Homo sapiens: one gene and its partner. The protein of the gene in region 1 purifies or fractionates together with the protein of each later gene. This does not show direct contact. Each region holds a gene or a part of one and is shown on either strand. Other genes may lie near its edges.

Evidence for each region.
Region 2: the proteins of RTN2 (region 1) and JPH1 purify together in Homo sapiens (affinity purification with mass spectrometry; 3 studies listed by BioGRID and IntAct, with this or other methods). This does not show direct contact.

Annotation. Positions count from the first base shown.
Region 1 is NC_000019.10:45,489,728-45,504,917, reverse strand, and holds the start of RTN2 (reticulon-2), read left to right. Parts: upstream 1-7,870; 5' UTR 7,871-8,092; coding exon 8,093-8,126; intron 8,127-9,778; coding exon 9,779-9,823; intron 9,824-9,912; coding exon 9,913-10,392; intron 10,393-10,497; coding exon 10,498-10,752; intron 10,753-11,539; coding exon 11,540-11,758; intron 11,759-15,190. Other genes in the region: PPM1N (putative protein phosphatase 1N), read right to left, coding at 2,718-2,901, 4,357-4,462, 4,852-4,969, 5,507-6,445. UniProt on the Homo sapiens protein: Inhibits amyloid precursor protein processing, probably by blocking BACE1 activity. Enhances trafficking of the glutamate transporter SLC1A1/EAAC1 from the endoplasmic reticulum to the cell surface.
Region 2 is NC_000008.11:74,314,467-74,330,102, reverse strand, and holds the start of JPH1 (junctophilin-1), read left to right. Parts: upstream 1-8,562; 5' UTR 8,563-8,815; coding exon 8,816-9,194; intron 9,195-14,482; coding exon 14,483-15,242; intron 15,243-15,636. UniProt on the Homo sapiens protein: Junctophilins contribute to the formation of junctional membrane complexes (JMCs) which link the plasma membrane with the endoplasmic or sarcoplasmic reticulum in excitable cells.

The DNA of each region.
Region 1 (15,190 bases):
TGGTGGCACACACCTGTAATCCCAGCTACTTGGGTGGCTGAGGGGCTGAGGTGGGAGGATCACTTGAACCCCGGAGGCGGAGGTTGCAGTGAGCCAAGATCGTGACACTACACTCCAGCCTGGGAGACAGAGCAAGACTCCTCAAAAAAAATTAAACAAAACAAAACAAAAAAAAGATGAGGGCAGGGAATAGTGAAACCCTTGGACATCCTTTTCTGAAGCACGGAGTGAGCAGCAACTTAAGGAGGTGTGGACTGGGCAAGGTGTGTCATGCCTGTAATCCCAGTGCTTTGGTGCTTTGAGAAGCCAAGGCAGGAGGATCACTTGAGGTCAGGGAGTTTGAGACCAGCCTGGACAACATAGTGAGGCCCCATTTCTCTCTTTTTTTTTTTTTTTTTTTTGAGACAGAGTTTCATTCTTGTTTCCCAGGCTAGAGTTCAATGGCGCAATCTCGGCTCACTGCAACCTCCACCTCCTGGGTTCAAGCGATTCTCCTGCCTCAGCCTCCCAAGTAGCTGGGATTACAGGCATGCACCACCAAGCCCAGCTAATTTTTGCATTTTTTAGTAGAGATGGGGTTTCTCCATGTTGGTCAGGCTGGTCTCGAACTCCTGACCTCAGAAGATCTGCCCACCTGGGCCTCCCAAAGTGGTGGGATTACACGTGTGAGCCACTGCGCCTGGCCGAGACCCCATCTCTAAAAAAAAAAAAAAAATTAACTGGGTGTGGTATCATCCATCTGTGGTCCCAGCTACTTGGGAAGATGAGGTAGGAGGATTGCTTGAGCCCAGGAGTTCGAGGCTGTGGTGAGCGATGATTGCGCCATTATACTCCAGCTTGGGATACAGACTTAGACCTTGTCTCTTAAAAAAACGGGTGGCATGAAGTGTGTAAATGACGTGGGTGACATAGAATGAAAACATCCATTAAGTGGATAAAAAGTTGCCAGAGATACGAAGGGAATGAAAAAAATCAAGGAAACACCCAGAATACCATATATTAATACATGTAAAAAGTCCACTTTAAACTCATTGCAAGGGTTACCAGTGAGATAGAGAGTGTGGGGTTAATTTGGTGGTCACAGAGATCTTTTTTTTTTTTTGTAGAGACAAGGTTTTGCTATGTTGCCCATGCTGGTCTCGAATTCCTGGAATCAAGCTGCCTCGGCCTCCCAAAGTGCTGGGATTACAAGTGTGAGCCACCGCACTTGGGAGGTCTCAAGTCTGTCTTGAAAATGCCAAATTTGGCCGGACCTGGTGGCTGGCTCATGCCTGTAATCCCAACATTTTGGGAGGCCGAGTTGGGTGGATCACCTAAGGTCAGGAGTTCGAGACCAGCCTGACTAACATGGTGAAACCCTGTCTGTAGTAAATACAAAAAGTTAGCCTGGTGTGGTGGCACGTGCCTGTAATCCCAGCTACTTGGGAGGCTGAGGCAGGAGAATCACTTGAACCCAGGAGGCGGAGGTTGCAGTGAGCCGAGATTGCACCATTGCACTCCAGCCTGGGCAACAAGAGTGAAAACTCTGTCTCAAAAAAAAAAAAAAAAAGGGGGGAAATTTTATCCTGCTTCTAAGCCTTCATACTGATTGTTCCCTCTGCCTTAGAACACTCTTTGGGGTATTTGCGGAGCTGACTCTTCTCTGTCAGGTCTCTGCTCAACTGTCCCCTCCTCAGAGACCTTTCCTGATTCCCCTGTTTCAAAAGCCACCTCCCCCACCACGGAAAATTGAGTGGCTGAAGTGTGAGAGGGATAGAGAAAGACTTCATTGTATGCCATCTTGCACTCTTTGCATTTCAAACCAAGTGAATTTATTACCCATTCAAAACTACCTGAATTAAATAAATCAAAATTTTAAAAATTGGAAAAAGTAAAAAACCCGAAGTAGCTCCCCTAGTCATTTTCTCAACACATCCTCCTGTTTTATTTTCTTCGTGACACTTGTCAGTGTGCAAGATGACTTCATTTTTTTAGTATTAATTACAGACTGGGCGGGAGAATGGCATGAACCCGGGAGGCGGAGCTTGCAGTGAGCCGAGAGAGCACCCTTGCACTCCAGCCTGGGTGACAGAGCGAGACTCCGTCTCAAAAAAAAAAAAAAAAAAAAAAATTACAGATTGCATCTTGCTATGTTGCCCAGGCTGGTCTCGAACTCTTGGGCTCAAGTGATCCTCCCACCTCAGACTCCCCCAAGTGCTGAGATTACAGATGTGGACCACTGCGCCTGGCGAGATGACTTTATTTATTGATTCCCTTGTTTGCTGCGTCTCCTGACCAAGAGGTCAGCCCCACAGTGGCAAGGATCTTGGTGGGTCAGCCTGGTTCATGACTGTGAGGCTAAGACCTGGCACACAGCAGGTGCCCTGTAACGTATTTGCTAACAGACTAGGCAAAACATGTCTTCTTGTTTTTTACAAGAAAATGTATTTGGAATCACTTATGTAAATAAAGTTTAATAATCAAAACTCTACTTCCCCTCAAAAACAGATGAGTAATAAGAAGGAAAGAGGTTATTGGACTGGGTTATCTCTCAGAATCTGTTCGGCTCTGAATATTTCAAAAACATTTGGTTGGGTTTTTTTGTTTTTTTTTTTTTTTTTTTTTTTTTTCGATTTGGGCTTTTTTCTTTTTGGTCTGGATGTTGGTGGAATTTCCCCATTCGTAAGACTTTTCTGTGAGAGGGAAGTAAGAGAAGAAGAAATAAGCATTTTGGGTTCCTACATTGGCCTTCCTTCCTTCCGCTGGTACATGTAGTTGGGGAAAGGGTCGGTTTTCTTCTTTAGTTCTGTTGAGGCCCCAGAGAAGCAAAGGATCCCCAAAGGACAACAGCTGTCAGGCCTCCATGTCCAAGGCTGAGCCCAAATGCGTGGGGTTGGACTTCCCAGCCCCATCCTGCCCCTTCTGTAACACAAAATGTGGGAGAAGGTAATGAGAAATTCTGTCTTGTCTCCTGGCACCTCTTCCTTTTCCTTTGAGGGACCACCATATCCCATCTCACAATCCATTAAGGTTTGAATGGAGTGGACCCCAACCCCAAGTGCGACCCCAGCCTGGCCAATCAGACACAGTGACTGGTCAGCATGTGACCTGGTGTGGCCAATGAGAACCAGCCCCCAAAGACCACTGCTGCAACTCCGGGGAAATTGGCAAACTTTCTCCACTGGGGAGGACAGGCTGCTGGGGTGTAAGCCTGGAGCTGCAAGTCTCCGCTACCTTAGGAGGAGACCCTGAAAGGTAATGAAGCCAACTCGGAGAAAATAAAAAGAGACCATTCATGATGACATCATCTGACAACTAGATGCAGCCATGCCTTAAGACTCTAAACTCTTCAATTACATGGCCCAGTAAATTCCCTGTTTTGTTTTCCCAGCTTGAATTGGGCTTCCATCTCTCACGACTCAAAGAAAACTGACAAATACCTCCTTCAGCTACTGAGAAATTGTCAACAATCCTCCCTCATCAACATGATAATCACCAAACTCCCACCTCTGCCATGCAAAGGCCTTGGGGCTCTAAACCCAGCTTCCTCCCTCCCATTTCTTCCCTGATGCCACTCCATGCCTTGGTCCACCACTATACATCTTTGGATATCTCCAAATTCTCCTTAGCTATCTGGGCCCCATTACAGCTTCTCTTGTCTAAGACCTGGATCATACTCATGTATGTCCTGATGGTATCTGCTGTGCGTCTAGGCCTTAGAATTGGTCATTAGCATTCCCTGAATGTTTCCATCTTATTCTTGGATGTGGGAAGCACTTGGGCTGATGGGGCACTGCAGAGCGTTGCCGGCTCACATTTCTTGGAGGGGAATCACAGTCTCTTCTCTGCATCTGCGTCTCCCTCCTCATGCCTTGCACAATGCTTCAGGGCTGGGAGTAGGAATGTATTAATATAGCAAGCTGGCTGGGTTGCAGTGGCTCCCGCCTGTAATCCCAGCACTTTGGGAGGCCAAAGCAGGAGGATCCCTTGAGCCCAGGAGTTTGAGACCAGCCTGGGCAACATAGTGAGACCCAGTCTAAAAAAAAAGAGAGAGAGAAAAGAAAGGAAGGAAGAAAAGAAAAAAAGAGAAAGAAAGAAGAGAAAAGAGGAATAAAATATATCAGGCAAATCCCTTATCCTCACTGGCTTCAATTTCCCTGTCACTAAGAGGGGTGGGCGGGGGGGCGTCCCCTCCTAAGAGAAACACTGGAGAACACAGGATCCTTACCTCTCCGCACTCTTCTGAGACCTGGCAGATCTGAGAATAAACTTCAGCAATGACAGTGGCCCTGGAGAGCACAGGAAGGCCCTCAGGAGGGGACTCTCCTCCTTCCACCCCACCCTCATTCCACCCCACCCTTCCTCACCCCAACTCACTTGCAGTCCAGCCCTCCCCCAGGAGGTAAATCTGGGATGTCCTCTGAGGCCAGAGTCCTGAAAACTGTGTTCAGGCTGGGGGGCTTCTGAGCAGAGGCACACAGTTCTGAGAAAGAGTCAAGAGTTAGGCTGGGCACAGTGGCGCACGCCTGTAATCCCAGCACTTTGGGAGACCAAGGCGGGCGGATCACTTGAGGCCAGGGGTTCGAGACCAGCCTGGACAACATCGTGAAACCCCGTCTATACTAACAATACAAAAATTAGCTGGGTGTGATTGTGCATGCCTGTAATCCCAGCTACTCAGGAGGCTGAGGCAGGAGAATCGCTTGAACCCGGAAGGCAGAGGTTGCAGTGAGCCAAGATCACGCCACTGCACTCCAGCCTAGGAGACAGAGCAAGACTCCATCTCAAAAAAAAAAAGAAAAAAAGAAAAAGTTATGGCACAGCCTTCACTGGCCAACCACCCCTCCAGCTGGGCCCCCAGAGTCTGCTCACCAGCGATTCTGCAGCCCAGGGCTGCGTCCAGTGCTAGCTCCCTCCTGATCGCCTCCTCAGAAGGCCTAGGGGCCCCAGGGAAGCAGACCAGGATGCAGGTCATGTTGTCCAGGCTGCCCTGAAGCCGGTGGAGAAAAAGGAGCCCGGTGGGGGAGAGTCCAAGGCAGAGCTTCCCAACAATCCCCAGGTTCAAGTCCCCCACTTCATTCTACTTATGCCCATTTCTTTCGCGTCCCACCCACCTGCCAATCCTCTCTTACTGGGACCAAACCCGGTCCTAGGCGCTCCCAATTGAGAGAACAATGCCTTTTCCCTAAAGCTCCGCCCGCTCTGATGTTTACCTGCTCTTCCACCTTCCAGCACTAATCAATACTTCCGGCCCGGCTCCTACGACCCAGAATCGCCCCTTTCCAAAAGACCACGCCCTTTCTCTTAAGTCCCTTCCACTAACTCTCCCGTGCCTCAAAGCATCCCTCAGGCTCCGCCCCTGTATTTTGGCCCTGCCCACTTCAGGCCACGCCCTTCGCTTGAGTCCTATCCCCTCCTTTGCTAGCTTTACTCTTGCCTCTCTATCAAAGCCCTCCTCCCCAAAACCCCGAGGCTCTCTCCCTCTGCTGCACCAAGCCCCAAAGGTACCACGCCACGCCCCCAGGACCTTGCACAGACACGTGTCCAACAGCTGCGCGCAGAGAAGCTCTGGGGCCAGGCCCAAGCGGAGGCGTGAAGCCACCAGTCCCGCCAGGGCAGCACCAGACACAGTGTCCCAGACGCCATCAGAGGCCAGGAGCATGAACTCGTCCTCAGCCTGGCGTGCCAGTGCGGCCACCTCTGGCTCCGCAGAAACGAGCTGTAGCTCGGGGGGCCTCCCCGGAGCCTCCTTGTAGGTAAAGTCGCCCAACGCTCGCGACACGGCCAGAGAGCCCTCGACGCGGCGGCGGCGGATGGTGCCGCCAGCGGCGTGGATGCGCTCGCGTTCCCGGGGTCGAAGGGGCCGGTGGTCCTCTGTGCTGAAGGCCACGGCGCCAGCGCGGCTCAGCACCGCGCGGGAGTCACCGCAGTGCGCCAGGTACAGAAACCGCGGGGAGACCAGCAACACCACGGCCGTGCAGCCGCCCGTTTCCACGCGGGGCCAGAGGGAGCGCAGGCGCTCGTCGGCGCTCAAGAAGGCTCGGCGCAGCGCCTCGCGCACGCCCTCGGGCTCGCTAGGCTCCGGGCCCAGCTCCTGGAGCACATGGCCTGGCAAATGGCGTGCACCGAAGCGGGCAGCTCGAGCCCCACCGTGGCCGTCGAGGACGGCAAACAAGGCCCAGCCCGGGGGCAGACCAGGTAACGAAAGCCAAGTGCAGTGAGCATCCTCCATGCGCGCGCGCCAGCCTTGCGCTGCGCTCGCCCCGAAGCGCAGGCCCCCAGACGCCTCGGCACCCCCGTGCGGCCGCTGGGCGCGGCGCGGCGCTGTCAACAGAGACCGAGGCCCTTCGGGGGCCCTGCGCCCCGCCTCCTCCTCCTCCTCTTCCTCCCTCCCCTCCTTCTCCCTCTCCTTTTTCTTGCAAGCGGTCCAGAGGAGACGCTGCAGCTGGCGGGCCAGGACCGCCATCCTTCAGCCCTGGGATCAGGAAGGCTCCACCCTGTACACCTGCCCGCCCCCTCCATTAATCCCCTCCGCTGTGAGATTTTAAACCATCTAAATCTCCTTCCTGTCCTTTGACCTGCTCTTTAGGCGGGTCACTAGAAGGAATTACACTTCTGGGTCTCCTGTTTCCTGCACCTACAAAGCGGGGTTTGGGATCTGAATCAGGAAAAAAAAAGAAAAAAGATAATACTGTACCAGTGGCAAACTATTACATAGTACTAATGTGTCACACACTGTTATACATCATCATCTCCAGTTTACATATGGAAGAAGAAACAGAGTCACAGAAGTAACCGGTGTTCCAGGGAAACTAATTCTAGAATCTGTGTTCTCAACACAACACTCAGTCCAAGCTCCTCCCACCTCAGTGGTACAGCCCCCAGCCTCAAAACCTGTAAATACCATACTTGGCCGGGCGCGGTGGCTCACGCCTATAACCCCAGCACTTAGGGAGGCCGAGGCAGGCGGATCGCTTAAGCCCAGGAGTTTGAGACCAGCCTGGGAAACATAGCGAGACCCCGTCTCTACAAAAATTAACATTTAGCCAGGCGCGGTGGAACACACCTGTGATCCCAGCTACTCAGGAGGCTTAGGTGGGAGGATCACCTGAGCCCGGGAGGTCGAGGCTGCAGTGAGCCGTGATCGTATCACTGCACTCCAGCCTGGGCAACAGAGCGAGACCCTGTCTCAAAAAGATATATATATATATATATATATATATATATATATATATATATACATATTTTTTTTTTCTTTACTGTTTTTAGTTCGACCCCTCCCCTCTGGGGCTTCGCTTATTTTCTCTTCCAGGCCCCGCCCATCCAGGATTCAGGCACACAGCTCCAGACCCTTCTAATTTTCGCAGACCTGGAATCGCCTGGAATCCGACCCCACCCAGTTATATTTGAATAATTCCCTGTTGCTTTAGCCCTGCCCACGTTTGAGCTCCTCCGCGTGCCCCAAAAGTTTCTGAATCGTTTCATTCGGCCCCCTTTCTCGCTCCCTCTGCAAATCTAGGCTCGGACCCTACCTCAGAGCATTAGAATCTTTCCACCCCCTCCTCAATGGCACCCCGAGCACCACCCCAACCCACCCAGGGATCCACGCTCTCATCCTCTCTGCCGTGGCTCGTTCACCATCCTCTCCCAAGTCCCTCGCCAGACTCCAGGCCTCCTTCCCTCTTCCCCTAAAGGCTGCGCCCTCTGCGATCTAGGCCCCGCCCTTCAGGCCGCTTTCCCCTCCTTCCTGGCTCCGTAGCCCACCCTCTTGGTTCCGCCCCTTTAGTAAGAAGGCCACGCCCCTCCGCCTGATCCTCGGCGTTTCCCCGCCCCTCACCCTCCCTCTGGTACCGCCCCGCCCGTCTTCTGGCCCCGCCCCCGGCCGCGCGCTGCAGTGCCTTCCCCACCTCGGCCCCGCCCGCCCCCGCCGAGCCGAGCACCAGGGCGGCGGCGGCGGCGGCGGCGGCGGCGGCGGCTGGAGCAGCCCGGGAGGAGGAGGCGGCGAGAATGGCAGCGGCGTCGTGGGCGCGGCGGAGATGAGCGCCCGCGACCCCGGGCCCAGGGCGGCACAGCCGGAGTGGGCGGGGGTCCCGATGCAGGCCCGAGGGGGGCCATGGGGCAGGTCCTGCCGGTCTTCGCCCACTGCAGTGAGTAGAGGAAGACTGGGGCCTGGTGTGGGCCCCAGAGGTTCAGGTGGGGTACTCCCCGGTGTCCCCTCGGCGCTTGCCCGCAGGAGAGCCGGGATGGGGGGAGGAGGCATAGGAGACAAAGGAAGCTCTCCCCTCCCCCGCGCTCTGGCGGCGACGGGGGTAGCCTGACCCGGAGGACCTGGACGAAACAGGGCGGAGGTGAGGGGGCACTGAGACAGCAGGCGGGGGGCGCGCTGCGCTCTGGGACGTACCGCCCGGCCCCGCCCGGGAGCGAGGACGCGCGCGGGGAGCTGTCCCCTGGCTCTGGTGCTGGCCGCAGCTGGCGGGGAGGGGGTTGAACGGAGGGTAGAGCCAGGATGGAAAACAGGGGTCTGGCTCCCAATCACTTGCCTTCGCATCCCATCCCCGTTTTCTGTCCAAGAGGCAGCCCCGACCTCGCCCAAACTGTCCAACCCTGTCCCGGGAAAACAGCCATCCGTGGTTTGGGGGCAAGGACTCATGGGTTCTTAGCGGTCTTTACCACTGGTTAATGGTAATCCTGGGGAAGACCCACACCATTCCAGGCCTCCTATTCCCCAGCTGAGGAAACGAGGTGAGGGCACAGGGCGTCAGATTTCAATTTCCAAACCGCATTGAGCATCATCTATGTGCAAAGCTCTGAACTAGCTCTAAGGGGCTGGATTCCCAGCTGAAAACGCCTAGCCTCACAATCTCTGAGCTCACAGCTATAACAGTCCATGTCTACCGTTCTCTGTCCCACACATGGGGGTTCTGACAGCTGGGGATTTCAACACCCTTAGATCTAGCCATTTCCATGTCTCGCGTGTCCAGATGCCAAAATTCTAAGAATTGGTGATTTCAGCATTTTCGAGTATCATCCCAACATTCTATGATCTTGTCGTTAACTTCAGATTACAAAGGGAGGACCACCTCGTCTGTCTCTCCCCACCGCCCTTACCTCTCTGTTCTCACCTCCCACTCCTCTCCTCCTCAGTCACTCTTCTCCAGTCATATCTTCGCACCTCTCAGTTCCTCAGATGCCAAGCATGGTGCCTGGCTCAGGGCCTTTGCACTGGCTTTCTTCTCTACCTGGAAGACGTCCCTGAACATCTGCATGGCTTCCTCACTTCCTTCAGATCTCTGCTCAAACGTCATCTTATCAGAGAAGCCTTCTTGACCACCCTATGAGAAACAGCACCCCTTCACTTTCTCTTCCCCTACCCTTCTTTACTTTGCTCCCTATGCTCATCTGCACCCGACGTCATATATTCACTTGTTTATTGTTTGTCTATCCCAAAGAGTGTCAGCTCTAGGAGGGCAGGGATTTTGTCTGTTTTCTTCACAGCTGTATCCCCAGGACCTAGAACAGTGCCTGGCACATAGTAGGTGCTCAATAAGTGGTTGTTGAACGAATGAATGAATTGAAACCTCCTAAGATTCCTACTTTGAAGACTCTAAGATTAAGATTCCTGGATTTGGACTTCAAAGACTCTGAGCTTCATCAGGCAGTGATGCTAGGTTTTAGAGTCTGTGTGCAGAATGTTCTAAAAATCCCGTGATTCAAATATTCTAAGATTCCAGGACTGGGACACTTCTGTGATTCGGACAGTCTAAGCTTCTAAGAGTCTTCGATTCTTTCCCTCTCGCAGAAGAAGCTCCGTCTACAGCCTCCTCAACTCCTGATTCCACAGAAGGTAAGTGGTGGGGAGCATGTGAAGGGGCTCAGGGCTGGGCAGCTCAGGGACCTGCTGAGGGAAACAAGGCTCTCCTTCACCCACTGCAGGAGGGAACGACGACTCTGATTTTCGAGAGCTGCACACAGCCCGGGAATTCTCAGAGGAGGACGAGGAGGAGACCACGTCGCAGGACTGGGGCACCCCCCGGGAGCTGACCTTCTCCTACATCGCCTTTGATGGTGTAGTGGGCTCCGGGGGCCGCAGGGATTCAACTGCCCGCCGCCCCCGCCCCCAGGGCCGCTCAGTCTCGGAACCACGAGACCAGCACCCTCAGCCCAGCCTGGGCGACAGCTTGGAGAGCATCCCCAGCCTGAGCCAATCCCCGGAGCCTGGACGACGGGGTGATCCTGACACCGCGCCTCCATCCGAGCGCCCTCTGGAAGACCTGAGGCTTCGGTTGGACCATCTGGGCTGGGTGGCCCGGGGAACGGGATCCGGGGAGGACTCTTCCACCAGCAGCTCCACCCCGCTGGAAGACGAAGAACCCCAAGAACCCAACAGATTGGAGACAGGAGAAGCTGGGGAAGGTGAGATGTCCGAGGTGCTGGGACCAAAGCCAAGAGGGGTGGGTGGTTTCTCCTTGGGGCACCTCCAAGAAGAAAGCTCACGGCCTCCTCTCTCTACCGTATCAGAACTGGACCTACGACTCCGACTTGCTCAGCCCTCATCGCCCGAGGTCTTGACTCCCCAGCTCAGTCCGGGCTCTGGGACACCCCAGGCCGGTACTCCGTCCCCATCCCGATCGCGAGATTCGAACTCTGGGCCCGAAGAGCCATTGCTGGAAGAGGAAGAAAAGCAGTGGGGGCCACTGGAGCGAGAGCCAGTAAGGGGACAGTGCCTCGATAGCACGGACCAATTAGAATTCACGGTGGAGCCACGCCTTCTAGGTAAGCAACGTGTATGAAGATGCTGCATTGGCCCACAGAAGGCAAAAGGTGAGAGGATTTTGAATTAAAGGGACCAACCTCGCAAAGGAACAGTACATAGTGGAAAAGGGAAGAGATAGACGTGATATCACATCTGGCTAGACGTGATAAACTCCGCTTTTTAAAAAAATTTCCCCGGCCGGGCGCGGTGGCTCATGCCTGTAATCCCAGCCCTTTGGGAGGCCGAGGCGGGCGGATCACTTGAGGTGAGGAGTTCGAGATCAGCCTGGCCAACATGGTGAAACCCCGTCTGTACTCGGGAGGCTGAGGCAGGAGAATCGCTTGAACCTGGAAGGCAGAGGTTGCAGTGAGCCAAGATCGCGCCACTGCACTCCAGCCTGGGCGACAGAGCGAGACTCCGTCTCAAAAAATAAAAATAAAATAAAATAATCCTCCCTCTTCTGGAGTGCTCCTCCTAGTGGCTGATTTTGGACAGGCCAAATCCCTGAAAAAATACAGTTCTCTCCTTATTTAGATGTGGCCGTAGAATATTTATAAGTAAACTCTGTGCCTTTTAAAAACTCTTCTTTTTGGCCGGGCGCAGTGGCTCATGCCTGTAATCCTAAACACTTTGGGAGGCCGAGGCGGGAGGATCCTTTGAAGCCAAGAGTGCAAGACCAGCCTGGGCAACATAGGGAGACTCGATCTCTATTTGAAAAAACAAACAAAAACCCTCTTTTTCCTGACCACATCTATTGGCCAGTTGTAAAATGACCCAGCCTTACTTTAAAATATGCTCCGCCTCCAGGAACAGCTATGGAATGGTTAAAGACATCATTGCTTTTGGCTGTTTACAAGACGGTTCCAATTTTGGAATTGTCCCCACCTCTGTGGACAGCCATTGGCTGGGTCCAAAGGGGCCCCACCCCCCCTACTCCTGTCCTCCGGGTTCTACTGAAGTGGGCAAAATCCCCGAGAAGCAGCGGTGTCCCCAGCCTCTCACTCGGAGCCGATATGGGGAGTAAAGGTGGGCTTGCGGAACGGGCTGGACGGGGGCTGAGGTCGGCGGAACGGGGTCCAAACTCGCCCTTATCTCCTGCACATCCGGAGCATTTTTATTACTGATCTGCTTCCGCAGCGCTGCAGGCTGGGGCTAGGGGGCCGAGGGGCAGTATAGGGAGGACCCAGAGGGAGCATGGGGTCCCTTCTCCTTCGAGCCAGCACTTTGGGGCCCAGGAGCAGGGAGGACCCCCTCCCCCAGCCTCGGCCCCAGGCAGCGCTGTCACTCAGGGGCCAGACGGGCCAGAACAGCTGCGGGGAGGCCCCCTCCCCCCAGCGTGCCTAAACTTAGCCCCCGCCTCAGGCGACCTGGCCCCTCCCCCATCCACCGGCGCCGGCCACTAGGAGCCTGCCTGGGAGGGCCCTGCTATGGGGAGGGAGGGGCTGCCCTATTTGGAGGTAAATGAGAGGAGATGCATTGGAAGGAGACGGAAGTGAGGGGTGAGCCTCTAAGAGGGACCGGTCGGAGGGGTCAGTTGGAGGGAGTGTGGGAGGATAGAGAGGATCTGGAAAGAAATAGAAAGGTACTGAGTTCCTGGTTTTCAGGACTCAAAGGAAAGCAGATTACTAAAGTTTCTTTTTCTTTTTAAGCCACAGAGTCTCCCTCTGTCGCCCTTTCTGGAGTGCAGTGGTGGGATCATAGCTCACTGCAGCCTCCAACACCTGGGCACAAGTGATCCTCCCACCTCAGCCTCCCAAGTAGTTGGGACTAGAGCCACAGGCCACCACGCCCTGCTAATTTTCTTATTTTGTTTGTAGAGACAGGGTCTCACTATGTTGTCCAGGCCTCAGGTGATCCTCCCGCCTCGGCCTCCCAAAGTGTTGTGATTACAGGAGTGAGCCTAAAGTTTAGACAGATGAGATGAAGGTTGGGGTACAAAGGTCACTGGTCAGGGCTGAGGTTGGGTTTAGGAGGTGTGTTTTAGGGTCTCAGAAAGGGGTCAGAAATTTGAGTTAGGCCCTGGAAAGGAGTATGGCGTGATTAATACATTTAGGACTTAGAAACATGTGTTGCTAAGGGTATCAAGGGGATATCACTTTACACCTGACAGATTGGCAAAAGTTAAAAAGAACTGCAACCCACTGCAGGGCAGGATGCTGGGAAAAGATCTTTCTCTTGCTTCTTGTGGAAATAAGAACTGTTATGGTCTTACTAGTAAGCAGTGTTTCAAAATTTATGACATTAAAAAAATATATATGACCGAGCGCGGTGGCTCATGCCTGTAATCCCAACACTTTGGGAGGCCGAGGTGGGAGGATCACTTGAAGCCAGGAATTCAACCTGGGCAACATAGCGAGACCCTATCTCTACAAAACATTTAAAAATTAGCCAGGTTTAGGAGGTCGAGGTGGGCAGATCACAAGGTCAGGAGATCGAGACCATCCTGGCTAACATGGTGAAACCCCGTCTCTACTAAAATACAAAAAATTAGCCGGGCATGGTGACGGGCGCCTGTAGTCCCAGCTACTCGGGAGGCTGAGGCAGGAGAATGGCGTGAACCCGGGAGGCAGAGCTTGCAGTGAGCTGAGATCGCGCCACTGCACTCCAGCTTGGGCAACAGAGCGAGATTCTGCCTCAAAAAAAAAAAAAAAAATTAGCCAGGCCAGGCATGGCAGCTCATGCCTGTGATCCCAGCTAGTTGGGAGGCTGAGGCACAAGAATCTCTTGAACTCGGGAGGCAGAGGCTGCAGTGAGCTGAGATCATGCCACTGTACTCCAGCCTGGGTGACAGAGGAAGACTTTGTCCAAAAAAAAAAAAAAAAAAATTAGCACGATATCGTGGTGCCACCTGTAGTCCCAGCTGCTAGGAGGCCGAGGTAGGAGGTTTGCTTGACTCTGGGAGGTAGAGGCTGTAGTGAGCCATGATCACGCCACTGCACTCCAGCCAGGGTGACAGAGTGAGACTCTGCCTCTAAAAATAAAAAAAAAAAAAATGTGGCCGGGCGTGGTGGCTCACGCCTGTAATCCCAGCACTTTTGGAGGCCAAGGTGGGTGGATCACCTGAGGTCAGGAGATCAAGACCATCCTGGCTAACACGGTGAAACCCCATCTCTAACTAAAAATAACAAAAAATTAGCCAGGCATGATGGCACATGCCTGTAATCCCAGCTACTCGGGAGGCTGAGGCAGGAGAATCGCTTGAACCCGGGAGGTGGAGGTTGCAGTGAGCCGAGATTGCACAATTGCACTCCAGCCTGGGCAACAAGAGCGAAACTCTGTCTCAAAAAAAAAAACAAACAAACAAACCAAGGTCAGGCGTGGTGTCTCACGCTTGTAATCCCAACACTTTGGGAGGCCGAGGTGGGAGGATTACTTGAGGTCAGGAGTTCGAGACCAGCCTGGCCAACATGGTGAAACCCCATCTCTACCAAAATATAAAAAATTAGCCGGGTGTGGTGGAGCCCTCCTGTAATCTCAGCTACTCAGGAGGCTGAGGCAGGAGAATTGCTTGAACCCAGGAAGCGGAGGTTGCAGTGAGCCAAGATTGTGCCATTGCACTCCAGCCTAGGCAATAGAGCGAGAATCCGTCTCAAAAAAAATAAAAACAAAAACAAAACACACACACACACACACACACACACACACACACAGACACACAACCAGTCCACCCAGCAATTCCACCCTGGGAATCTGTCTCAGAAATAGTCACTCCAGGAGGTGAGAATATCTGTTGGAGGATGTTGCTTGCAGCCCTGCTTGCGGTGAAGGGGTTAGGAAACAAACTGAATGACCCAGCAATAGGTACATGGTTAAATAAAATGAATGAGAGCACAGGAGCACAGCCACAACACAGAATACTATGCAGCTCTTTAAAATAATGAATTAAGGCCAGGCGCGGTAGCACATGCCTGTAATCCCAGCACTTTGGGAGGCCAAGGCGGGTGGACCACGAGGTCAGGAGTTCGAGACCAGCCTGACCAACATGGTGAAACCCCGTCTCTACTAAAAATACAAAAATTAGCCGGGAATGGTGGCACATGCCTGTAATCCCAGCTACTTAGAAGGCTGAGGCAGGAGAATCGCTTGAACCAGGGAGGCGGAGGTTGCAGTGAGTCGTGATTGCGCCACTGCACTCCAGCCTGGGCAATAGAGAAAAAAATAAAAATAAAATAAAATAATTTTTAAAAAATTGCAAATCGGGCTGTGTGCTGTGCCTCACACGTATAATCCCAGCACTTTGGAGGGCTGATGCAGGAGGATAACTTGAGGCCAGGAGTTCGAGACTAGCCTGGGCAACACAGTGAGAGCCACCTACCTCTAAAAACAGAAACAAAAACAAAAATTAGCTGAGTGGTGGTGCACACCTGTAGTCCCAGCTACTGAGGAGGCTGACGTGGGAGGATCACTTGAGCCCAGGAGATCGAGGCTGCAGTGAGCTATGATTGCACCACTGCCTCC
Region 2 (15,636 bases), on another chromosome or scaffold:
TTATTCTATGAGGTTAGCCCCTGAAATATTACAGAGGTAAGCAGTAATACAGTGTCTAAGACGAAGCGGACCCCACAATCAGGGCTCGTTCTGGCACCTCCTTCACGGTGAAGTGGGTCCCCTGGTTGGAGTTTATGTGTGAAATCCCACGCTTGTGAATCAGGTATTCTATAAGCCACTGGACAGTGCTGGTACAGGCTGAGGCTCTGTGGGGAGGAAAGGTAAATCCATACCCAGAACGTCTATCCTTAGTAAGGATGAACCACTGGCTCTTCTAGGCTGAAATGAGTCTAATATACTCAACTTACCACCAAGTAGGTGATTGATATTTGCAAGGAATACTCTCTGTTACTAACAGATCTGACTTACAAAGTTAGGAGTAGTTAAACCAACCTCAATAAGCAGCAGTCCCTGCTCTTGGGCCCAGGTACAACCTCCATCTCTGCCACTGAGGCAACTAAGCTCATGTGCCCCTTGCTCCAGATCTGGGATGTCTGTTGAGGAAGGCTGACATTAACTGGCTGAGTCCTGTCATCTACTTGGGTTTTCAGTGCCTCTTCCACTTTGTGTCCATTCCCATATGTTCATCCACATGTCTCTAGCCTAGACCTCCATGTTTTCAGTCTTCCAATCCTTCTCTGTCCAGCCTCTGACCAGGCAACGCTGTTAGCCACTGCTCAGAAATCTATATAAATATTCCCACCTGGGGCCACTTTCCCTTCCACACAAAATACATGACTGGTTCAACATTCACAGTTCTGCCCACTGGAAAGATTTTCCCGGTCTACAGATGTTCAAGACCACTCCTGAGTGTAGATGTAATGCAGCCTCCATTCATTTTCAGCTACATCCACATACTGAGCTCATCCAACCGTAAACCAGATAAAGGTTTTTCCTCCCCCTTCAGCTAGTTATCTGAAACCCCAATCTGCTCAGAGAAGTGAACCAGTGGAACCCAGGTGGGGGACATGAGGGTCTGTCCCACACAGCCCTCAAGAAAAGGCAACCTGTTCTTGCAGCTTTTCATGCCCTCTGGTCCCCCTCAGCTTGCTCCTGGGGATCCCAGTCCCAACTCACAATAGATTGCTTCTGGGTCTGTCAAGACTTGAGTCAAGAGGACTCAAGCTCATAATGGGAAATTCTGAATGAACAGGCACTTTTTCCCATGGTCAAGCACTCCTTTACTACCAAGGCCAAGTAACTTTCAAGTAAACTGTTTCTCAAAAGATGTAAGATTGCCTGTTGCAGATGATATAGATCCTTGCTTTAGATCCCCATAGACTTGCAACTGTGATTCTTCCACAGGGGCTTGCCATAATCTTCATATATCTTTTCTCACCACTGATACCTCCAACACCATAGGATCTGCCTGATCATATGGCCCAAGAGGCAGGGCTGCTTGCATCACAACCTGAGCCTCTAGAAAAACCCCTTCCTGGTCTGAGCCCTCTCAAAGCTGGTGGCCTCCCTTCTGTGTCACCTAGCACATAAGCTGAAGTAGTGTCTAAGTGTGTATGTGTTGCTTCCAGAACCAAAGAGTAGGCCTACCAGGTGTTCTGCTTCCTTTTTGTAGCAGAGGATGCAAGATGCATCAATTTACCCTTAACTTGGAGGGGTTGTCAGGGGCAGTGGCCTTGATGCAAAACCCACAGGAGATGTGAAGTTGTGGCAGCTGGAGTCTCTTTGCCAAGTACCCTCCAAACTGTAGGTTCTCTTGAAGGCAGATCTGAGCAGTGAGCCTCCACAGCCACTCTTTGGGTGTTCTGATGTCTCTGTAAGCTTTAAAAAGTGCTTGCCACATGAAAATGATGTAAAATGCAAGAGATGACAAAAATGCTAGAGTGGGATGAAGGAAAGGAAGAGGAATTTAAGCTTTATTTGGAATGCAATCAGTATCTGAAGAATGGCCTACAAGGGCTTTGAGGTGTGCATGCTGAGCTGATATGCAGATTGGTACTGCAACTCTTGGCAAAGATACCACATCCCCCCTTGTCATTCAGTTAGAGGAAAGCCTCTTCTATTATTGGCTATTGTTTCAAATCCCATTCCTGAGCTCTTGGAACCATTCACTCCTCAATTATAATTTACATTTCTTTTACTGTCTAATAATTGATTGCGTTTTTCTTTCCTTCAGCTATGAGTCATTTAGTAGCTACTTACTCCTTTGCTTTCAACAATATTGTGTACCTCCCTTCTTTATGCAACTGCTTTATGAAAAGGTTATCTCATCAATTTTTACAACTTTTAACAACATCTCAATACTGACACTCTTCAAAATGCTTTTAGATTCCCTTGCTATCTCCAAGTCGTGCAATTTCAAATACTGAGTTGCCTTTCAGTCATAGTTTCAGAACAAAGCGTTGTGATTTTAAATGTAGGATGAGAGATGAACTCATCGCCATGTCTCCTCGGATGCCTGGGATTTCTTTTTCAGGAAGTCTCTTCTGTTCTTACAATCACAGATTGAAAGAGAGACTTGAAAGAGTGGTAAACCTTCATTCCCTTCATTCCTTCCCTTGGTAGGGTGCCTCTTAATTCAAGAAGATCATTGCATTATAAATATCTAGAAGGGTATGCCTTTACTATATCCATAAAGTTAAACAACATGCCAATGATTACTGAAAATTGTTTCAACCATAGCAATCCATTAAATCACTCTGTCCTCTGAACTCTTACGATACTTGGCACTTATTGGCTACTTGTAGTTATCTCCCTTGTATTTTTATTATTTTTCTTTTTCATCTCCTGTCTCTTTAGAGATATTTTATATCCTTAAGTGCAAAGGCTGAGCCTTACTTCTCTATGTCTCCATACCTAAGACAGTAACCATGTACACATATATAAGATGAATAAACATATGCACACATATACATACATATACGTACACATTTTGTGGTTTGGTTCAGGCACTACACCTCTAATACAGACCTGCAATCCACTCTGTCTTCAAGTTACCACTCTTTCAAGTCTCCCTTTCATCTGAGGTTACCTTTTTTATTGTTAGAACTTTCCTGAAACCCTCTGTGAGCCTCATCATTAGACATGGATGGTGTCCAGGTCTATGTGGAGCTTTCCCCATTAGGAAGAGGAGGCAGAGGGCCACAAGGGACGCATCATGAGAAGAAACCAAAGCATTGCCCTTGAAAGTTAAATAGGCTCAGCTGGTGTTTTTAGATCAGAATTAGACTATTTCTAAATCAGACTCTTGGCTTCTAGGGCAGGATTGCCTAGTTATACAAGATAAGCCAACAAATATCCAGCAATTATACAAAATTCTGGTACCATAAGGCTAATAGTTGGAAAACAACAGATAGCATAAAGTTAAGGAGACTAGAAAGGGATAAGAAGATGAAAAATACACAGAGAATGACACAGCTGAAGTGGTGGGAGATGAAGAGGGAGAAGAGAAGCACAAATATGGGCATCATAGAAGCCAAGGAGATGAGTGTCCCCAAGTATAAAATTCACTGCTGCCACTAGCAGGATAGGAACTGAAGATATGCCATCATATCTGTCAAACAGAAGGTCCCTAATGGCTAGAAAAGCTTCACTAGACCGGTGAGAACAGAATCCAAATCAAGTAGTACGTAAATTGGAGGCAGGGACATAAAGACCAGAATACACTCTTTCAAGATCTGCAGTTTCAAGAAAAGACATAGAGGACTTAAGGAGATGGTAGACCAGCAAATTAGGACTGTTTTAATATGGAAAACACAAGAGCTTGTTTGTTGGCTGAAAGAGAAGAAATTAAAACATATTTAAAAGAGAGAAGGTTTGGAGGCCAAGACGCGTGGATTGCTTGAGGTCAGGAGTTCGAGACCAGCCTGGCCAACATGGTGAAACCCCGTCTCTACTAAAAATACAAAAATTAGCCAGTTGTGGTGGCACACACCTATCATTCCAGCTACTCAGGAGACTGAGGCAGGAGAATTGCTTGATCCCATGAGGCAGAGGTTGCGGTGAGCCAAGACTGCACCACTCCACTCCAGCCTGGGCAACAGAGCGAGACTCCATCTCAAAAAAGAGAGAAAGAGAAAGACAGAGAGAGAGAGAAGGAACTGACCCAGAACTTGGGGAGGAAAAAGGCTATCTTTTCCTCTTGGAGGCAGGTGAATGGGAAGAGGAAGAAAATGGGAACCTGTGTAAAGTTTTTGAAGAGAGGAAAGGTGCAAGTGTTCCTAGCTCCTTCTTCCTCTGTGAGACAGAAGACAGTGTCCTCTGCTCAGCAGGAGAAAGCTGCAGTGGAGATGGGCTCCAGGATGGTGATAAATATCAGGAATCTGCCTGGGAAAAGTTGTGCTATGTAGCATGGAGGACTTTGAGGAGAACCAACGGAGTGTTCAGTGAGAGTGGCAATGAGGGAACGCCGTCAGAGTGGAATTGTAAAATCCCAGTTTGCAATTTTCAGCTGGACCTATACTCTCAAATTCCAGAGAGTTGGCCTTACTGGACCTTACTTGCTGGATCAAAGTCAAGTCCAGGCTATGTCCGAGGCCCGAGTGAATAGTGGAAGTCTCAGAAGGGGATGTTACTGAACAACGGCTGTCAGAGGAAGAAGAAAAATGGGCATTATTTACTTATCAACCTACTTATTTTTAATTTTTGACCTCTCCTACTGAATTGCCTACTGATCATCTCTGGGGTATACTTCTGGATCATTGTCTCCTAAATAAATATATCTTCTGCAGCCCCCATAATTTACTCTCCTTCCTCCTTTAAAAAAAAAAAAATCTAGACAGCAACATTATCATTCACCCAGGCAGCTAATCTAAAAAAATAAGAAATAAAAGTCATCTTTACTGCACCTTGTTGTTCTCCGCCGAGCATTTGAAAGCTCTCAATGTGTTCTCATCCTCTCTCCAATCAAGGACAGGAATAAAGAACCTCCTCTAAAGTCACACAGACCTGGGTTTGAATCCCACCTCAACCATTTCTACCTTGAATAATTCTGTACCTATGAATGTGCTAAACCTTATTTTCTCCTTCTGTGAAATGGTTGTACGACTAGTACAAATCATCTACAACTATGAGATTTAAATGAATTCATACCTGTAAAAAAAGCTTAGTATGGTATCTGTCATACAGTAGTTGCCATAAAAGACTTGAAGACCATTAATTTTGGAATTCTCTTCCTCTTCTGATTTCACACTGCCTGCAAAGTTTCTGACCATATTTCTTAATTTTTATATTTATCACGGACAAATTTCTTGAGTTTGTAAATTCTTTATTGCAAATATTCAAATTTTGATTATTTGATTGTATAAATCAAGATGGTAACACTTTTTGACTTATATATCAAGTGATTTTAATTGTATGTGTTTTTCTACACACTTTGAATCATGGTTTTTAGACAATAAACACCTACAGATTAGCTTTTTGTCATTTGTAAATTTTTTATTAAAAACTCTCAATAATCAGTCGGGGTTTTTTTGTTTTTTTGTTTTTTCTTTTAGAGATGGGGTCTTCCTATTTTGCCCAGGCTAGTCTCAAACTCTTGGGCTTAAATGATCCTCCCGCCTCAGCCTCCCAAAGTGCTGGGATTACAGGCATGAGCCACCTTGTCCAGCCAATAATTAATCTACTATGTAAATAAAATGAAGTCACCAATAAATTTTTAAATACACCTTCATTTTTTGAAAGACATCATTAAATTCCAGCAAAACATCCTTACTAATATGTTGTTAACTGGTCATAGTCACACTCAAAATAGCTTACAATATGTTATAAAATTTTTTAGAATGGAAATATATAATAACTAGGTTTTTAACATGGAGGAAAACAAACTATAGGGTAGTTGCTGGCCCCTGGATTTTCATGGCCTCCCCCGTTCCACCTGTCAAACCAACATTCACATTCTCTTCTTACTAATCCCTTCTTAAAGCTAAATTCAACTCCCCCTTATCCAGGGCAAAGGTTCAGAGGGAGAGGGAAAATAAGGACATTACTAACCCTGACTATTAAACTGCAACATTATTCCACTGTCTACTATCTGCTATGCCATCACTCTCAGCATCTCTTCCTCTTCCTAGTATTCTCTCCCCGTCTTCTCCAACCGTTACCATTGACCCTGAACACTTACACTAACACATATGTCTTCGTGACTGGGTAAACATTCCATTGTGATGGCAGCTGGTAAATGGAAGCATGGTTTATATGGTTATTTGCCAAAAATTGTTTAGTAATTTACCAAAAATACCAACTTTCTTTCATAAAGAAAGTCAACATCAGAGCTAGGCTAGGATTAAGATTAGTTAAAATTTAATCATACATACCTAGTGGTAAAGTCTCACTTTTAATTAAGGTTCTTTGCAAGGCATCTATTAGGGATAGCCACAGGAAAAGAGTAAGCAATAAATGGCCATGTCTTTTTTCCTCCCCAAATCTTCATATTCAATCCAGATGTGTGTGCACCTCCCACCACAAATAGACTAGATATCCATTACAGAAGCCAGAAACTTGGTTTGTGCTCTGTGTTCCAGAAAATCCCTCATTTGCATGACAACTAATTAGGAAGAGTAATAAATAAAGAGATAAAGGTTTCCAAAATTTATCCCCTTAAAGAACATATATGGGTCCTAACACACTGGGTGGATCCAAAAAAAAAAAAAAGGCAAAGGGACAAAGACTACTCTATGAGGAAGTCTAGTTTAGAAAGAGACTCCCCCATTCAAAATATTGGCTTGAGCAACCACACTTTTTCTCATATCATACAGAACCTCAAAATATATGGGAATGCATCTTTCTACATTAGCTCCTGATTCTGGTGTATCCCATAACAGGGAAATGGAATTATGGCTCAGCCGCAAAGCCCTGGCCCTCATCTTCCCAGCGGCCTAAATCAATCCCCAGTCCAGGACAAGATGCTTCGAGAGATGCATAATTATTTCAGGCCACTAGGGTAAGCACTATTCCTGGCAACTCTGCGGGCAGTGCCATGGATGAGGGCTTCTAATTCTCTTTGGTGATTTGGTTCTGCATAAACTGAGATTTTTCTTTCAGTCTTTCAGCCAGATAAGTAGGAAAGGTCGGCTCTCGTCCTGAGAGAGAGGCAATCAAGGTCAATTTCAGTTCCTTTTCTGTGCAGTTTAGTCTACTTTTTCCCAGGCTGTCTTCCTGACACCTGTCCTTATATCTATATCTGATTATCAAATACTTAGTGAGAGAACCTTTGGCAGCTTCTGATGCTCGCATAGTCACCCAAAGGCCTCTCAGCCTAAGAAATAGCAGGAATACACTCCAAATCAGTTTCCTTGAGAGGCCAAACTAAGACCCTAGGCTGTGAAAGTGGGAGAAGTTTCTCCCGTGGGTATTTTGAGGGTGAGGTGGAGAATAATGCTTTCTCTCACCAGAGGCAATGCTGATCCAACTTGCCTATTACCAAATCTCTAATTTTTGGTTTGGCACTGCAGCCACAATATACTCAGTTATTACCGAATATAGAAAGAGAAAGGCAAATCTTGTTAGTCCCATTCAGAAGATGGTGAAATGGAGGTTTAAAAGTTTAGAAGAGTTGCCTAAAGTGAATTCGACAAAGCAGTGTTGTAGCTAGAAAGTAGACCAGCTGACATCTGTCCCTGGTTTTGTAGGTCACAGTTTCTTTGCAAGTTTAGAGCAGTGCTTTACTTACCATATTCCTCCTTGCAAACCTCTATTTACTTTCTTAAACAGTGGATACCAGTGGAGAGGTGTGCATTCCAGACACTTATACAATGTACACAGACCGAGCCGTCTACCTGTTGGGCACACAGCTCCAGGCTCAAGAATCTCTAAGGCTGTTAAGAAGCACAAACGAGGCACGAGAGGGGGCAGGCTCTAATGTAAAAGGAATATCCTGTACCACTGCAAAGGCCGATTGAAAACATCCTCTTCATCACTATTAATAAAAAACTAACCAATATATTCTGTGCTTTTTCAAACTGTACTGCTCACCCTCAGTGTCTTCATTAAATAAATGCAAACACGTGTGCTTTGAAACGGGTAGGTGTAAAAGAACACTCTGCACAATTATATCTAGGCTGCCGCAGATTTACATCACATGCATACATATATCTAGGCGATATTAATTCACGATGACAGCTGAGCATGACAAATGCAACAGTACACAAGTTGGAATGCGAAAACAATGCAACTACAAACCCCATGCAGACAAACACGCATACAATGAGTTTTCCCTCAACACACACGTGGCCGCACTCACAGGAGCTTAACCACTTTGAAAAACCCCAAACACAAACACCGGGGGCTCCGGCGCCCGCGAGCGGCCCCCACACAGGCAGCCGCGCCTTCATCTCCAGGCAGGGATTCTCGTGCGTCCCCGGGTACACTCGCCCTCCCACCGGCATCCCACTGCGCGAACACATGCGCGCCAGCCGGTCCCCGCGCGCGCCCGCCTGCCGAGGAAGCGGCGGCTCCCGGGGCTGGGGGCAGGGCCCGGTGGGGCGGGAGCGCCGCGGGGCCGGGCCTCGGCGCCCGGGGAGGGGACGAGGGGCGGGCGCGGGGCGGTGCCCGGCTCACGTGGGCGGGCGGGAGCAGCTGAAGGTCCGCTCGGGAACCTGGGCTGTCCTCTCGCGCGCGGCGCTGGCCCAGGCGGCGGCGGCGAAGGAGGAGGAGGAGGAGGAGGAAGGCGGCGGTGGCGGCGGCAAAAGAGGAGGGAGGACGGGGGCGGCGTCGGACTGGAGCCGAGCGGCAGCGCGAGCTGCCCAGGGCGCTGTCGTGAGCTCGCCCGCCGGGCCCCCACCCCCGAGCTACACCCTGCCGTGCCCAGCACTGCCCGCGTCCGTGCCCCTGCGGGGAGCGCGCCGGGGCTGCCCCCCGAATGACGGGCGGAAGGTTCGACTTCGACGATGGCGGCACCTACTGCGGCGGCTGGGAGGAGGGCAAGGCGCACGGGCATGGCATCTGCACGGGGCCCAAGGGCCAGGGCGAGTACTCGGGCTCCTGGTCGCACGGCTTCGAGGTGGTCGGAGGCTACACCTGGCCCAGCGGCAACACCTACCAGGGCTACTGGGCGCAGGGCAAGCGGCACGGGCTGGGGGTGGAGACGAAGGGCAAGTGGATGTACCGGGGGGAGTGGTCACATGGTTTCAAGGGGCGCTACGGGGTCCGGCAGAGCCTGTGCACCCCCGCTCGCTACGAGGGTACCTGGAGTAACGGGCTGCAAGACGGGTACGGCGTGGAGACCTACGGGGACGGAGGTGAGCGGCGTAACGGGCGGCTCGGCTGCTCCGCGAGCTGGTGCGGTGGGCTCTGCCCCGGCTGCGGGGAAGCGGGGAGGACGCCGGGCGCACGTGTCCGGAAACCCGCCAAAACACCTGGGGGCGCCTCCCACCCCCGCGCCCGCGCCCGCCTTTCCCAGAGAGGGCGCTGGGACCGGACTGGGGCGCGAGGGCTGGATCTGACCCCGTTCTTGGAGCGGGCCGTGTATCCACACTCAGGGGAGCTAGGCGTGAATGTACCTGGCCGGCGCCAGCGCTGCGCTGCCACCGGGAGGGAGCGCCGCCCGGGAGGGTTGGGCTGGAGAGAGGACGCTGTCACTTGAGCCCGTCACATTACGTTCCTGATCCCTCCCTCTCCCGGCCGGGTTTGAAATCGCCACTCCCGTGGAGTTAGAGCGAACACCCTGAGCGGGTGAGGTTGGCGGTCCGTGCTGACCGCTCCCGGGATTGGTTTCACGTGGAGTCGTATTTCGCTTCTGGTCCTCCAGTAGCCTAAAGATAGAAGCCAGAACCCCGTAACTAGGATGTTGGGGAATTGTACCTTATTTGGGGGTGCATTTGGAAACGTCCTAGTTATGGGAGCAGAAAGGCCACCTGATGCAGGTGGAGTTCAGAGTGTGTGAGTTCCTAGTTTTCATTCCGTTTCTTAAAGTATTGGTCTTAAAAGAGTAGCAGTCTTTGCTGACCTGGAGATCTTGGACAAATTACTAGGAAGATATTTTAGAAATGGGTAATGAAGTCTACATTTTAAAGAATACAATTAGCAGGTGTGTTCCTATAGCTGCTAAGTTAGCAGCTACTACTCCTGAGAATGGCAATACTGAAACAATAATTTGCATTATGTGTGACCTAAGCCAGTATTCCTGGCTGTGAACAAAGATCACCTTATTTTAATATTTAACAATATTTGCCAAAGAGATTGTGTATATACCAGGACAGAAGTTCCTCTTTTATTAGGAAAAGTATACATTATTGAAACAGGTGTCAAAACCTGATGAATTTCCTTGTGTAATACGCTGAGAAAGATATTCATGAATAGCTTATGCTTTAGCAAAGTGCATTTCCTGATAAACATAATCATATTTAGTTGAAAAGGGTTGTAGGAGGCGACATCACTTTTTGGAATTAAGCAGCTCAGAGTTGGAGGATATTAAAGGGATGCAATTAAAAGTTTCTCCAGCCCACTGCAACCCCATTTATACCATTGCTTATATAAAAGCTTACACAATTTGTACACTTCACTTAGTCAGAACACTTGGGCCGTGTTTCAAATGCAAAATGGCAGAATGGTAGAACTTGCTAAAAAGGACATCTTTTCATCCTACAGTATAAATTAAGCATATGGTTCTCATGGATTAAAAGAAAAAAACGTTCTCTAATAGTTTTATGTGGGGCTGAGTCCCGAGTTTCACAGTAGTTAATTGGGACCCTTAAATGTTCTGAATGGGCATAAAGTACCTGGTTGACAGCGCTGTAAATATGTCAGTTTGTGACTGGATTTTGTTGGAGGCCCCAGCTCTACTATATAACTAAATTCCATGCTCAAAAGTAGAAGGCAAAATTTATTGTTTTAAATGTGTGCATTATTTTATAATCTTTTAAGAAGGCCAGGGATGGTTCTCTTCAGTTTTGGAAGGTTAAAAATCGTCTCCTTTTAAAGATACTATTCATTAAACACACTCTCTTGGTTTAGAGTATTCATTATACCTAGTAATCAAAATATATATAGCACAGTAGAGGCTGTCTGTGTACATGTCGTAGAAACCCAAATAAGTCTCCAGAATGATTTTATGAATAATCTGCCTTCAGTTTTAAAATAAACTTAAAAAAAAACTTAAAACTTGGCATCATCCTGGGTGGTACTGTGGTTTTCTTCTTCTACCAAAAAAAAAAATCTAATATGCTACAGTTAGGAAGAAAAACCTTAAAAATCACTACTGAATGTCTACTCTATGCTAATAGATTTTCTACTGTCTCATATGTAACTATTTCATTAGAAAGTTCTCAATCATAAAAAGGGAGTCTAAAGCAAGTTTATTGCTGTAACTTATTTCATACAAAGGTTTTGGCCAAAATAGGAATATCACTAAAAAATTAGCTTGTTTTCTGCTGTTCTCACTAAGGAGTTAGCTTGTTTTTGTTTGCACTCTCCCCATCGCCACATGTCCATCCCTGTACACCCTGTATCAGATTCAGGGAAAATCTGATTCCGAGTTTTTTTGTGGTGACATTAAACTGGAGGAGGAAGGAAGCAGTAATTCCATGTGAGACGTATCACTTATTTTATTAGTGATTTGTGTATTACATGTTGCTGAAATAGAAACCCCCTGAATATTAACAATAAGTTAGTATCATACTCATGAAATCCAAGTCTAGGTGCCCAGAATTTTTTGTGCTAATTCTGATCTGTACTTTGTTTTTTCACTTGTCATAAAACTATTGAAAATATCTGGGAAAACACAACGTTTTGTTAACTAGATGCATACTTGCACATACCCATTCGGAGCATATAAACTGAAGTTTGGCATAGTGCAGTGCAAATTTGACTGAAACTCCTAAACTGGATGCCTTCCACTACAAGATTGTGTAGTTAAAATGACTAAATCTAAAAAATTAGCTCCCAAATGAACACAGTTTAAAACTGGTAAAAGTAATTTTTATACTTGTGAAATATGCATCTACATTTTAGGAATCAAGAGGAACTAATTAGAACTTTATTTGAGCAGCAGGGAGAAGTTGGAACCCACCTGCTTCATAAAGAAATAGGCCCTTTCTTATTCTAGGTTCATTGACTAAACTAAACCTATTTTAAATTTCAGATGAACTGCTAACAGTTTGACTGCAAATTGGTTTCTAGCAATTCTGTGGAGGAATTCTTTCATATACTGTGATTTAACAAAATAGGAGAGGAATGTGGCCAATGCTCTTGTCCCCCCCTTCCCTATTTGACAGTTAAGCAGAGACTTAAACTTTCTAATTATTGCTGTTGCCTTAAACAGCTTGGATTTTCAAGCCATACTTTTTTGGAAATTCTAAATACTGTACTAGTCTTATTTTTGGAGATAACAGTTTAAAGAAACTAGCTGTTAATTTTCCATCAGTGTTAAACATTTACCAAGATGGTATGGCTGTGTTTTAAAAGTGCAGATACTTATTGATATCAAACAGCATCTCTGCAAATTGTTCTAGCAAAATTAACTTGTCACTATAGACAAAAGTTAGGAGGATGTGATTATAGCATTCTTTTAACCAACAAAATATTAAAAATAAGGTGGTTTATTTTAGTATCTTCAAGCCAGATTGTGAAACTTTCATCCTAGAATTTAAATTTTACCTGTATAGGCAAAGGAAAAGTCAAAGTCAAAATTTCCTAATAATTCCATTCCCATTCCTGTTAAGATGGCGGTATTTGGAGATGGCCAGTATTCAATAGGAAGCTTCTTAGCCTGAAATGTTTTACATGACTATCTTATCCTCTTGAGTTAATCTTTCAGAGAAAACTGTGGGCCACCCACCTCCTCAGAAGTTCATAGATGTCAAGTTAAGACTTCACATCTACCCAGAATATGACATTTACAGTACCAGACCCACTTAGTATTTCATTGTATATCTACTATTGCCTGTGTCACATATGCCAGAATGAACAAAAAGAGAAGGTAGTCTTGAAATTGGTCAAAACCGTTGACTTGGGAGTCATTATGGTTTTAACTTTTAAGTGCAATGAAATAACCAGCCATTGTTAACACAGTTATATAAAACCACTAGCATTTTTGCCCGGTGTTTTGAAAATGAATATGTGCCATGCAATGGAAATCTGTGCATGGAAATATAAAATGCAAAGTGACTGCAGGGTAGATCTATATAATCAGAAATGGAAAGAGGTCAAGACAGACTAATCATTATTTGTTTTCTATGACATTGTGAATTGTTATGAATAACACAGAAGTAATTACATTTTAAATTTTCCAGATAGCTTCTTTTGAGGGATACTGTAAATTAAAATTTACCCTTAATTAAAGGAAATTGATTTTGAAAAGAAACTTCTAAATTCCCTAATTTAACATTCATTTCCTCCTAAGATTATTTTAAAACCTGTACCAGGTTATTTTTTAATGTCTTTGCTTATTTATTTAGTAGCAAAAAATTCACTACAAATGCTCTAGATGACAGACTATCATGAAAAAGCATAATATTTGTTGACAGAGTCATCTGGTATCAACATTTTAATAGATAGTGTCAAATATACCTTTCCTCTGAGATGAAGTCCAAAATGGTAACAGTAGAAGATTTCATCTGGCCTTACATCAGTTTCTCCAAGAGTAAAGGGTATACTTTTTAGCCACCATAGCTTTTTACCGTCAACATAGTCATCAAACACCCTCCATCCACAAACACAGACCAGAGGACACATGAGAATTTTGTGTTCTCATACGAAGTAATTCCTGCCCTCAGGGTGCTTCTAGTCTGTGGTGTGATTCACAATGCAGTGGCAGCTAGGGAAATCCATAGAGGATGCAGAGATTTGGCAAATGATACGGCACAAAGCTTTGGCCTTTTCACTTAGAAGCACAAAAATGTTAAATTACTCATTTTTTTCATAATTCACTGTATTCATAATATATATTGTGGTTGTCGATTCTCTCTTAGCTCAAAAAGGTTCACCCAAATTCAAATGATAATCCTGAATATTCAACAGTTTTGTCTACACTAAAAAAAGAGATGCTGAATGTAGCAGAAAATTTAAGACGTTCATTTGATGACTGTGTCCCAAGTATTCCGATTTAAGCCTGTATACTTCTTGGAATGTTATACTGACATAGACCTAAAAGTCATTTTTTACAGTTTTCCAGCTAAATTAGTAATATTAGAATAAAATTTACACATAGAATTCATTTCATCTTCTACTGTTTCCTTGTCTTCTTCCCAAGAGGAATTTTTGATGCATTAATTTCAGAGGAGAATGTTGTTTCCCAGTGTTCACTTTTTGTATTAGAAAGTAGTGGTTTTCCTCTGAAATACTTGCATAAAATTTTAATGAAAAGCAAAAATTATCTGACTACTAGAAAATTCTGTGCAATGACATTAAAGCCTTACACCCAAAATTACAGGGCGGGGATTCACAAGTGGATGCAAAGTATCCCCCAGGGTTGACTTGGAAATGGGTCAGATTTGACCTTGGGCAGGCCTGCGCCAGTGTGCGCTGGATGGTGCAGGTGACGGTGCAGCTCTGCCCCCGACTCACGGTGCTTTCTTGCGGTCTCTCCAAGGTACCTACCAGGGCCAGTGGGCCGGAGGCATGCGGCATGGCTACGGCGTGCGCCAGAGCGTGCCCTACGGCATGGCCACGGTGATCCGCTCACCGCTGCGTACCTCGCTGGCCTCGCTGCGCAGCGAGCAGAGCAATGGCAGCGTGCTCCACGACGCCGCAGCCGCCGCCGACAGCCCGGCCGGCACCCGCGGCGGTTTCGTGCTCAACTTCCACGCAGACGCTGAGCTAGCGGGCAAGAAGAAGGGCGGCCTCTTCCGGAGGGGCTCCCTTCTTGGAAGCATGAAACTTCGCAAGTCCGAATCCAAGTCTTCCATCTCGAGCAAGCGCAGCTCTGTCCGCAGCGACGCGGCCATGAGCAGAATTAGTTCCAGCGATGCCAACTCCACGATCAGCTTTGGCGATGTAGATTGTGATTTTTGCCCGGTGGAAGACCACGTGGACGCCACCACCACGGAAACCTACATGGGCGAGTGGAAGAACGACAAGCGCAACGGCTTCGGCGTTAGCGAGCGCTCCAATGGCATGAAGTATGAAGGGGAGTGGGCAAATAACAAGAGGCATGGATATGGCTGTACCGTGTTTCCTGACGGCTCCAAAGAAGAGGGAAAATACAAAAATAATATTCTGGTCCGTGGGATAAGGAAGCAGCTTATACCAATAAGACATACAAAAACTAGGGAGAAGGTGGACAGAGCAATTGAAGGCGCCCAAAGGGCAGCTGCCATGGCCAGAACCAAAGTGGAAATAGCAAATTCAAGGTAAGTAAATGCAGGGTGGTTGGTTTTGCTGGGTTGGTCAGAACAATGGAGTATCAAATATTATGTTTGTCTATCTGCCAGTGACATCGCTAAATGCTTTCTACAACTACTAAAAAATCAAAGGTGAAAAATGATTACACTCAGTAGAATCAAAGTCAGAAATGTACCTGCACTGTTCTGAAACTTCCCATCATCAAAAAATGTCGAAGGCACTTTGAGCTCCCCTTCCTGTTCTAAATTACTTCCCTCATATTTAACAGCGTGAGGGAGTTCACTGAGACCCTGTGCTCATCTTCCTGAGCCCGGAAAGTTGCTGTTTTCTTTTCTTTTTTTTGTAAGAAGGACCTCTGAAATGCTGCCATAGCAAGCATTGTGTTTTGTGTACCAAAAGAAA